Linked DNA regions of Homo sapiens. The protein of the gene in region 2 purifies or fractionates together with the protein of the main gene of each other region. This does not show direct contact. Each region holds a gene or a part of one and is shown on either strand. Other genes may lie near its edges. The genes, in order: CRHBP, TTLL12 and VPS4B.

The links.
Region 1: the proteins of TTLL12 (region 2) and CRHBP purify together in Homo sapiens (co-immunoprecipitation; one large-scale study listed by IntAct). This does not show direct contact.
Region 3: the proteins of TTLL12 (region 2) and VPS4B fractionate together in Homo sapiens (co-fractionation; one large-scale study listed by BioGRID). This does not show direct contact.

The regions. Positions count from the first base shown.
Region 1 is NC_000005.10:76,966,485-76,970,101, forward strand, and holds the end of CRHBP (corticotropin-releasing factor-binding protein), read left to right. Parts: intron 1-2,243; coding exon 2,244-2,401; 3' UTR 2,402-2,987; downstream 2,988-3,617. UniProt on the Homo sapiens protein: Binds CRF and inactivates it. May prevent inappropriate pituitary-adrenal stimulation in pregnancy.
Region 2 is NC_000022.11:43,170,076-43,173,728, forward strand, and holds part of TTLL12 (tubulin--tyrosine ligase-like protein 12), read right to left. Parts: coding exon 3,640-3,653; intron 2,480-3,639; coding exon 2,328-2,479; intron 1,826-2,327; coding exon 1,744-1,825; intron 1-1,743. UniProt on the Homo sapiens protein: Negatively regulates post-translational modifications of tubulin, including detyrosination of the C-terminus and polyglutamylation of glutamate residues. Also, indirectly promotes histone H4 trimethylation at 'Lys-20' (H4K20me3).
Region 3 is NC_000018.10:63,394,886-63,398,538, forward strand, and holds part of VPS4B (vacuolar protein sorting-associated protein 4B), read right to left. Parts: intron 2,369-3,653; coding exon 2,149-2,368; intron 1-2,148.

The DNA.
Region 1 (3,617 bases), on a different chromosome or scaffold from region 2:
GGGAGACTAGCCTTTGATCCGTCGCTACTTGGGCTTGGGGGAGATGCGGTTTTTCCTTTTGGTTCAGCTTTAGGAAGTTTGCATTAATTGGGCTTAGGTTCCCTGCCCCCAGACCCAGGTGTTTTCCTTTTGATCCAGCTTTGGGAAGTCAGCACAAATTGGCCTCAGTTTCCCTGCCACCAGGCCTTGGTGTTTTTCCTTGATTCAGCATGAATTGACCTTAAGTTCCCTGCCTCCAGACCCTATTCTCCTGCCTTAATTCTTTTCTTTCTTTATCATATTTCCATGAGCCCCTCCTGAGTTGTTCAGTGTTGAACTATTAAGGACCCTGCCCTTTACATTGGATTTTGTTAGGAATTAGTTCAAAATAATAAATAAATAATAAGTAAAGAAAATAGGACATGTTATAAAGATTAAAGTCCAGAGTAAGATCAGAAAAAGAATGACCTCCAAACTGTTTAATGAAAAATAAATTTGGCTGGGTGTGGTGGTTCATGCCTGTAATCCCAACACTTTGGGAGTCTGAAGCGGGCACATCACTTGAGGTCAGGAGTTTGAGACGAGCCTGGCTAACATGGTGAAACCCCATCTCTATTCAAATTCAAAAATTAGCCAGGTGTGGTGGCACACAACTGTAATCCCAGCTACTGGAGAGGCTGAGTTAGGAGAATTACTTGAACCTGGGAGGCAGAGGTTGCAGCGAGCCAAGATGGCACCACTGCACTCCAGCCTGGATGACAGAGCAAGATCCTGCCACAAAAAAAAGAAAGGAAAGGAAAAGAAAAAGAAATTTGGACCTCCTGGTAGAAGCTTAACTAGACTACCTGGTACTTATATTAAAATAATTATAGGGCTTTTATTTATTATGTCATCCATTTGACTTTTATCTCAATAACTCTATTGAACTGTTTACTTCATTTAAACCCAGGTATGTGTTTGAGTGGTACCCATTACACGAGGACAATGATAGCATTTCTTAAAATTTAAAAACACCTTATAGAGACAAAGTGAGGAAAAGAAAGATTGAGAAAACTAAAACAGCAGAAATGATTATTGTAGAGCAGATAAATCTTGCCTCAGGAATCAGCTTGGATAAACAAATAGAATAAATAAAAGGAAAGTAATTCTTAATAAAAGTAATATGAGTTTCAATATATAACCCATACAGAGGAGATATAAAAGTTGTCAGATCTTATATAAATAATGAATAAGATTGGATTTTTTTTTTTTTTGAGATGGAGTCTCACTTTGTTGCCCAGGCTGGGGTGCAGTGGTGTGATCTCGACCCACCACAACCACTGCCTCCCAGGTTCAAGCAATTCTTCTGCCTCAGCCTCCCGAGTAGCTGGGACTACAGGTGCGCACCACCATGCCTGGCTAATTTTTGTATTTTTAGTAGAGACGGGGTTTCACTATGTTGGCCAGGCTGGTCTCAAACTCCTGACCTCGTGATCCACCCACGTCGGCCTCCCAAAGTGCTGGGATTACAGGCATGAGCCACCGTGCCCAGCTGAATAAGATTGGATTTAAGAGAAGCAAGGATATCAGAAGCCATTTCATATAAATAGTACAGAAAAAATCAGAGAAAAGTTGTAAGTGGATAATAAAACAAAAACTAGTATGTTCAGTGTATGTCTATACGATGCAAATGATCTTTTTGTTTATGTATAAAACAGTTTTTGTATAAATTCAGAAAATGATAAACAGGTGTTTTTTTTTGTTTTTTTTTTTTTTGGTCTACATAAATGTCCCGCAGTACATTCCATCCTCTAGCCCCCACTAAATGCCCCTTGCAACCCTAGATCGGTGACAACCAAAAACTGCCACTGCAAATTTCCGACCTGTCCTTAGAGGGCCGTACTGTTTCCACTGCAATCCCTGAACCCGAGCAACTGTGCACACTCCAGACTGATTGCCTTTGCCTGCCTTTACTACTTAGGCTTTGCAGGCAAAAAAGGCCGAGGAGACATCTTCTTGCCTCTTTCCAGCTAGTTTTATTTTTTAATAGTGTTCTTGCACATGAGGAGAAAGACTGAATTCAATTGCACTATTCTATAACTAATTATAAGTTATAATAAAAATGAAACAAAAACATTTCAACTGATAGTAGATGCATGGTTTGGGTACATGAGAGGAAGATAGGTCTCCTTGCTTTCATTATGTTTAAGTGATCCCGTCATTTAAATGATGACTGTGTGGTTTCTAACCTGCTGGGAAACTTTTATCTTTTCCATCCATTATAGCCCAGATGAAAGTTGGCTGTGACAACACTGTGGTGCGCATGGTCTCCAGTGGAAAACACGTAAATCGTGTGACTTTTGAGTATCGTCAGCTGGAGCCGTACGAGCTGGAAAACCCAAATGGAAACAGTATCGGGGAATTCTGTTTGTCTGGTCTTTGAATAACCAACCCAGTGATTTACATGCTGATAGCTAAGTGAGTTTTTAATGGCCATTGTGTATGATTTTGATGCACAACTAGTTAAAAGCCTTTCATACCAGTCAGTATTCCCAGCCTTGAGCGCACGCGCGCACACACACACACACATACACACACGCATTAATTTTTGTACTTTGCTTCTTTTATGTTTGTAATCTGTAAATGAACACATGGCAGAAAATAACCCCTGATTGGTAGGATCATAGTTCTAAATGGAAATGTTTGTAATTCTTTGATGTGCTACAAACCTGAAACTGGTAAGACAAGCACAAAGCAACGTGCAATACAAAAATCGTATCTCAAGGGAAAATACTCAAAGAAAGAAAAGTGGCAGCACTTATATTAGTTTTATAACAGGATAAAGTCTTGTGTATAGCAAAGTAGTTGCATCTGTTTATTTTCTATTTATTATTGTTACAATAGGTAATAGTTATAGCAATTATTTATTGATTTGTAACAACTTGTTTTTAACCAAACTTTGTAGCATGGAAAAAATTTTCCATCCACAAATACAAACATGAATAAATACATTCAGAATGTTGGCACCATGATGTTGGGCTTTATTTGCTTTCCTGAGTAGTCCTCTTTCTTGTTACCATCAGAAAATAATGTTATCATGTGGTGCAGAGCCAAATGCTGAACTAAATCATTTTGGACTTCTCAGAGCTAGAACTCTGGGCCATTGAAGTAGAATTATTTAGAGGAGAGGTAGAATTGCAGTGTTTGCACAGGCAACACTAGCTGGTCCTGGCAGGGAAGCGGGTGCAGAGATTCATTTTCCGCTATCCTCAGAATACGTGTTTTTGTCACGATATACATTTCTACAAAGACAGCAAGGACCTTACAACAACTCTCATAGACACAATTTGCAGAAATCTGAATACTTCTTTGATACTGAAGGCAGTTTACTGTTGACTGAGCTTTGTTCCGTGTTTGGCTTAAAACTGAGTGTGTAGTATGTAAAAGACATCTTGGAGCAAAAAGGAAGGTTCTAAGCTACAAAGAAAATTCTTTTTTTTTTTTTTTTTTTTTTTTTTTTTTTTGAGACAGTCTTGGCTCTGTCACCTAGGCTGGAGTACAGTAATGTAATCTCACCTCACTGCAGCCTGCACCTCCTGGGTTCAAGCGATTCTCCTGCCTCAGCCTCCCAAGTAGCTGTGGTTACATGTGCGCCACCA
Region 2 (3,653 bases):
GTGGCAGTCGGCTCAGGTTTCTCCCAGAAAAGAACAAGCCAGGAAAGGCCCCTATGGAAGCCCGCCATCCATGCCATGCTGGACGTACCTCCCCAGGCACAGAGCTCCAGGAGAGGACTCCCGGGATGACCCCCACAGTACAGAAGGGAGGGGCTCAGAACCTGAGGGCGACTTCCAACAATGTCCTGGGGCCCTGCTGGGGGGTCTGGGTCCTAGGGAGTAGGCTTCAACACAGGCAAGGATAAGACAGACAGAAGCAACAGGACCACTCGGCCCCTGTGGGGAGTGTGTGCTGGTATAGTCACCAGTGCATGGCAGGGCCCTTTCTCCAAGTCCTCCTAGAGGACTCCTCGGACATGGGCATGGCCAGGTGCCTCCACGCATGTTCACGCGCCATGATTTATCATTAGTGAAGACCTCAGATGACCAATCGCCGCCACAGTTAGCAACAAGCCCGAACCTCAAAACCTCAAAACACGCCACTCAGCCAACAAAGCAAGCTGCAGAAGGATCCGTTGAATAAGATGATATTTACATAAAAACCTAAGTAGGAGGCCGGGCATGGTGGCTCACGCCTGTAATCCCAGCACTTTAGGAGGCTGAGGCAGGCGGAGCGCTTGAGTCCAGGAGTTTCAGACAAGCCTGGGCAACATGGCGAAACCCCGTCTCTACTAAAAATACAAAAAAATTAGCCGGGCGTGGAGGCACGTGCCCGTAGTCCCAGCTACTTTAGGGGGCTGAGGCAGAAGGATGGCTTGGGCCCAGGAGATTGAGGTTGCAGTGAGCCCAGATCATGCCTCCGCACTCCAGCCTGGGTGACAGCGTGAGACATTGTCTCTCAAAAAAACAAAACAAAACAAAAAACCTAAGTAAGCAAAACAGCAGCTTGAATGGTCAGGAACATACTCCTGCTGAAAAGAACCAAAGACATGCCTGGGAATGACAGCCACACGTTCAGGGGTCGGGGAGCGTTGGGGCTGGCTGCATGGGGAGTCCGCGGCACCTGCAAGGCTGGCGACAGGCAGGGTGGGGTAGGTGTTCTGTGCATCTGAAACACTCATTAACCAGCCAGGCCACAGAGGCCTTCCAGGACTTCCTTTCTTCCTTCCTGTACCCAGAGCTGGCCTCCTGCTTCTGTGCAGGCTGTGCCTACCTGTCCACGTACACTGGCTGGCCAGCTCTGGTTTCTCGCCCCCACCTTGGAAGGGCCTTTGTCCAGATGCCCCTGAGCTCCAGGTGCTCAGATGGTGCAGCTGCCATTCACTGAGTGCCCACTGCATGGGGCACCGCTCAACACTGTGCACCAGGGAGGACAGGAGGTCCTAGACCCGGGCAGGGTCACGGGCCAGCAGCCAGCCGGACCAGGTGGGGCCTCCCCGCCCCCGCCTGCCCTGGCACTCACAGGGTGGTCTGCTTTTCCGGTTGAAGTGGTGGTGAGGAGTAAGCCCCGGCTGGGAACACACTGTCTCAACCTGCTGCTGGACCCATCCCCCTCTGTGTCCACATTATCTCAAACACAGCCAGTGGCCCTCTGTGCCGTGGGGAGACCTACCTGAGACAACACAGAACCCAGCCTGGCTCATGATGGCAGCGCTAACAATCGCCTTCCATAGCAGGAACTCAGGAGGCGGCTCCTGGGACTGGCCTGTGTGCCAGTCCTCCTAGGAGGCAGTGTGGGCGGGGTGGGGTCGGGTGTGCCCTGGCCTCTGTGTGAACCTGCTCTGCACCTCCCTCAGGCCCTACCTGCTTCAGCACCACATCCGGGTCATAGTTCATGACCGTGAAGTGCTTCTCGTAGTCATCCAGGTCGTTGAGTGCAAAGGCCCTGGAAGACAAGTGTGCAGACACATATGGGTTCTTGAGCGGCCTTGTCCCTGCGAGGGAGGTGCCACCCACTCAGCCTTCCCAACTAGGGGTTCAGGGCTCAGGGCAGGACCACCTGCTGCTCAGGCGGGAGCCTGTTCCCTTGTCTGTGTGGCTGGGGGAGCCCCACAGCCCCACTGAGCTGGGGTGGAGGTGAGTGAGGTGCTAGCTGTGAAGCCTCTGCAGGTCCATAAAAATGGCACCTGGTTCTCATGTTGGTGCCCATTTTACAAAGAATGTTCACATCCATTACTGTGGGCAACACCAGAACTCTGAGGTGGGCAGGGCAAGTCACCGCCAATTAACACCAAGGGAGATGGGCTCCAAGGGCCGCTAGCTGGGTGAGTGATGGAGGGTGCCTTCCAACAACATTTTCTGATTCCAAAAAGGGCCCATCACCCACCCGCTACCTCCACCCGGTCACCCAGCTCCCCGACCCTGGACCCAGCCGGCCCTCCACTTACCGGTTGGAGAACCGCAGCCAGAACACATCATACACGAACAACCGTAGGGGCCTCACTGACCGCAGCAGCACGATGTAGCGGATGTCGAACTTGACCTTTCCCACGTCTTCTCGAAGGAACAACACGGGACTTTCGATGTACTTGGACACAACCTGGAGGACACAGGTGCAAGCTCGCTGGTGGCCAGGACAGAGCCCCCTGGGGCTCCCGAGCACACAAAGCCACGCAGGGGGCACAGACATGGCTGCACTTTACTCCTCCTTCTGCCTTTTCAAACCTGCCTAAGTTGCTGCAAAGTCTTTTTTTTTTTTTTGAGACAGAGTTTTGTTCTGTTGCCCAAGCTGGAGTGCGGTGGCACAATGTTGGCTCACTGCAACCTCTGCCTCCCGGGTTCAAGCGATTCTCCTGCCTCAGCCTCCTGAGTAGCTGGGATTACAGGTGCCCGCCACCACCCCCAGCTAATTTCTGTATTTTTAGTAGAGAAGGGGTTTCTCCATGTTGGCCAGGCTGGTTTCGAACTCTTGACCTCAGGTGATCCGCCCACCTTGGCCTCCCAAAGTGCTGGGATTACAGGTGTGAGCCACCGCACCCTGAAGCAAAGTCTTTATATCCATTTTTAATTGAAATGAAATATAAATTCTCACCCATAATTCCATCCACCCCCATCCCATGGCCTGAAGTCTCCACGACAATCGTCCTCATGATGCATTTCCCGCCAGCCTCTGACTATGTACACAGTCCAGGCAGATCCTGTGTCCTGCAATCCCAATACTGCTTCTGGATGTCCCCTCACTATGAATCTTTACCACGGCTCTGAGAGGCTCCTTGTCCAGGCTCAGCCACCTCACCCTGCTGGGCAGCCATACCTGGCACACTATGTGGTAGGAACTTTGCGATTAGACGCACCCAGGACAGTTCTTTTTTTAAAGACTGGGTCTTGCTCTGTCGCCCAGGGCGGAGTGCAGTGACGCGATCACAGCTCACTGCAGCCTCAACCTCCCGGGCTCAAGTGATCCTCCTGCCTTAGCCTCCTGAGAAGCTGGGACTACAGGTGTGTGCCAACATGCCCAGATAATTTTTAAAGTTTTTTCCCTTGTAGAAACGAGGTCTCCCTATGTTGCTCAGGTTGGTTCCAAACTTCTGGGCTCAAGTGATCCTCCTCCACTTCCCAGAGTGCTGAGATTACAGGTGTAAGCCACCCTGCCCAGCCTGGACCTGTCCATAAGGACCATGATGCTCGGTCCCCTTAGCCCCACCTCTCACTGTCCAGCCAGGGCCCTGAGCCCTGGGGCTCCTGGTCTGCGGGGCCCACCTTGGGGGTGCTCT
Region 3 (3,653 bases), on a different chromosome or scaffold from region 2:
CACTAATATTTTAGCTGCATGAGGTCAGGGATTTTTGTCTTTTTTGACTGCTCTACTTTCTGATCTACCACCGGTCCCAGATTAGTATTTTAGAAATAAAATACTAGTAAATGCAAAAAATAAACAGGGAATCTTCTTCTTGTTAACTGAAATAATCAGCTTTAAAAGAAGTAAAGGATGGAGCCGCTGAGAGGTCTGCTGCAGCTGGTGATCCCCAGCTGCAGAGATAAAACTCATCTGGCTGTGTCACCTTCATCCCACTAACAAGGACCTGGCTTCAGCGTCATGTGAGCTCACCCTGGCAGTAATATGCAGAATTGAGTGACAAACTCTCAGTAGGAAAGGACTGAGTTCCTATGCATTTATAGTTTCTAAATGGCAAAGAGAATTTAAGAAAAAACATAATGGCTGTGGCATAAACTTAACAGTACTTCAGTAATGAAATGGCTGAAGAAGGGTGGATGAGTAACATTCCCTACGCATCTGAAGTACCACGACTGGTGTTTTATGAGTATTATATCACTTCATTATTGGAAAGGACTTCAAAATAGCATTATCACATCCCCATTTTAGAAATGATAAAAATGAGCTTTAAAGAAGTAATAGAATTTGCTCAAAAAGGTATAACAAGTAAATGGTGCCAGGCTTCAAATTCAGATTTTAATTCAAGCTTGTTAACTTAAAAAAATCTTATTATGGTACATGATAAATATACGTATGTGACTTAGTCATATTAGTCTTGACATACATTATGAGATTAGGTTTGCTAATAGTTTTTCACATGTATGTTCATGAGTAATACTGGATACTGTTGTTCACAGCAAAAGGGTTGGTCCAGATTACCTAGTTCATTGTTACTCAAACTGGGTATCTCAAGACCACAGCCTTCTTATAAAACTTTATCTCAGCCACAGATGCTTAACTTGTTCTTGCAGACAAAACAGAACACAGGAGGGGCAGGATAGCAGAATGGCTGAGATTTCAGATTTGGAAACACACCTCACCTCCAGGCAAATCACATGTCTGTCCCACTCTAGCTACTGTGTTAGCACCTACGTCCAAGACTAACCACCATTAGGTGGCTGGCTACATGTACCTCTCTTGCTGATTTTTGTGAAGACCAAATGAAATAGTAAGATAAAAGACAGAACACAGTGCCAGGCATGTGAATATTTAAAAGATATTAGCTATTATTATTTTTACTTTATGAGGTATAAATGCACCAGATTCTACTCAAAAATATTCTAGATGTGTCAGAAGCAGCCTTACATCTGTACATTTAAGTTTCTATACTTATATCAAAATAATACACAAATACTTCAAAAATCATTTCATAGGAAAATTTAAAACACATTAGGATGATTAATAAGGCCTTTTCTTTTTTTAAGACAGGGTCTCACTGTGTCACCCAGGCTGGAGTACACTGGTGCAATCTCGGCTCACTGCAACCTCCACCTCCTGGGCTCAAGAGATTCTCCCACTTCAGCCTCCCAAGTAGCTGGGACTACAGGAGTGTGCCACCACATCCAGCTAATTTTTGTATTTTTTACAGAGATGGGGTTTTGCCATGTTGCCTGAGGCTGGTCTCTCCTGAGCTCAAGAGATCTGCCCACCTCGGCCTCCTAAAGTGCTGGGATTACAGGTATGGGGCACTGCACCCAGCCAAAAATGGCCAATAAATAAACTTTATTAAAGAACTTGTTTCAGTGACACAGAAATATGTCTATTATGTAAACCCACTTATGGTATTATTATACAACACTGAAATCCTCCCAAATTCTTTGAAGACAAACCAATGACGGTCTTGAAACTTGATTTTAAAAATACAGGAAAAGGGCCAGGCGCAGTGGCTCACGCCTTTGGGAGGCCGAGGTGGGTGGATCACCTGGAGTCAGGAGTTCGAGACCAGCCTGGCCAACATGGTGAAATCCTGTCTCTACTAAAAATACAAAAAATTAGCCAGGCGTGGTGGCACACGCCTGTAATTCCAGCTACTCAGGAGGCTAAGGCATGAGAATTGCTTGAACCCGGGAGGCGGAGGTTGCAGCAAGCCCAGATAGTGCCACTGCACTCCAGCCTGGGCAACAGAGTGAGACTGTCTCAAAAAAAAAAAAAAAAGATAGGAAAGGATAGATAAAAATGACTTACCTTTTTAAAATGAGTAGCTGACTGTACTTTCCTAACAGGCTGCATAAGGGCATCACGTACAATGATACTTATATCTGCCCCTGAATAACCATCTGTTTTCCTCCCAAGTTCCCGAAAGTCTGCTTCCGTGAGACTGTTCTGAGTGGTCCCTAGGTGCAGTTTAAACATTGCTGCTCGGGCATGGGGTTCCGGCAAGGGAATATAAATTCGTTTCTCAAATCTTAAAAGAGAAATTACATCAAGAATATATTTAATTGAAAATTAGGATATTTCCAAGAAGAAACAGATACTAAGTTAAGTGGGCCTGTATGTGCCAAGGTTAAACATATATATTTAGGTTAAAGGGATAATATCCAGAACACATTAAAAACAAACAAATAAAATCAAAATAGCCTGGGAGCCAGTTTGAAGTGGCTGAATCTTTCGTGCATTTTTGGGTTATTTTGGCCACAGTGTTCCTATGTCTGGAATTCATGAAATAAAAAGAGGTCCTACAGGGTTACAGTTTCCCACAAAATTGTACTCTGAACTCTTGATCAAGGGACTAATGATTAACAATATAAAACAGGAGTAGAGATGACACAGTAATTCTCTACATTCAAAACAGAATTACCTCACAATCTTATAGGATATATATTACACAAAATGTCCACTTTAATGAATACATCCAGAACAATCCTATATTATAAAGAATAAACACTATGTTTCATTAACAATAATTTTGCTTGCTTTCTTAGAATTTCGGTATTTGGAGACAGAGAAGCAACGATGAGGGATAATTTAAGTGGTCTGAGCAGACTGTTTTTTCTCCAGGTAACTCTCTGTGACAATGAAAAGAATTTAAAGTTTCCGTTGCCTCTAGAGATGGGTGCAGAATAAGGCAATTTTTCAAAAATACCCTGCACATTTCCTTTCTTGGTACTGGATGGTAAGCTAGAATGCTGGCGCAAATCATCAAGTGAATGGGATAAAAGTGGCAAAAACTGAAGTGCTAATTTTTACCATACAAAATAAATGAATGTAATACAGAACTGTGAAGAGTGAAAAGTGAAGAGTCCGTATACCTTTCCTAGAACTGAAGTTTCATTTTCAACTTAAAAATTAGATAGATAGATGTGTGTGTGTATACATATATACATATACACATATACATATATACACACACACACACATATATATATATATATATATTTTTTTTTGAGATGGAGTCTCACTCTGTTGCCCAAGCTGGAGTGCAGTGGCACAATCTTGGCTCACTGCAACCTCCGCCTCCTGGGCTCAAGCGATTCTCCCACCTCAGCTTCCCGAGTAGCTGGGACTACAGACAGGTGTGCGCCACCATGGCCAGGTAATTTTTTTGGATTTTAGTAGAGACAGGGTTTCACCACGTTGCCCAGGGTGGTTTTGAACTCCTGAGCTCAGGCAATCTGCCTACCTTGGTTTCCCAAAGTGCTGGGATTACAGGCATGAGCCACCACACCCGGCCTGACATATAGTTTTTACTA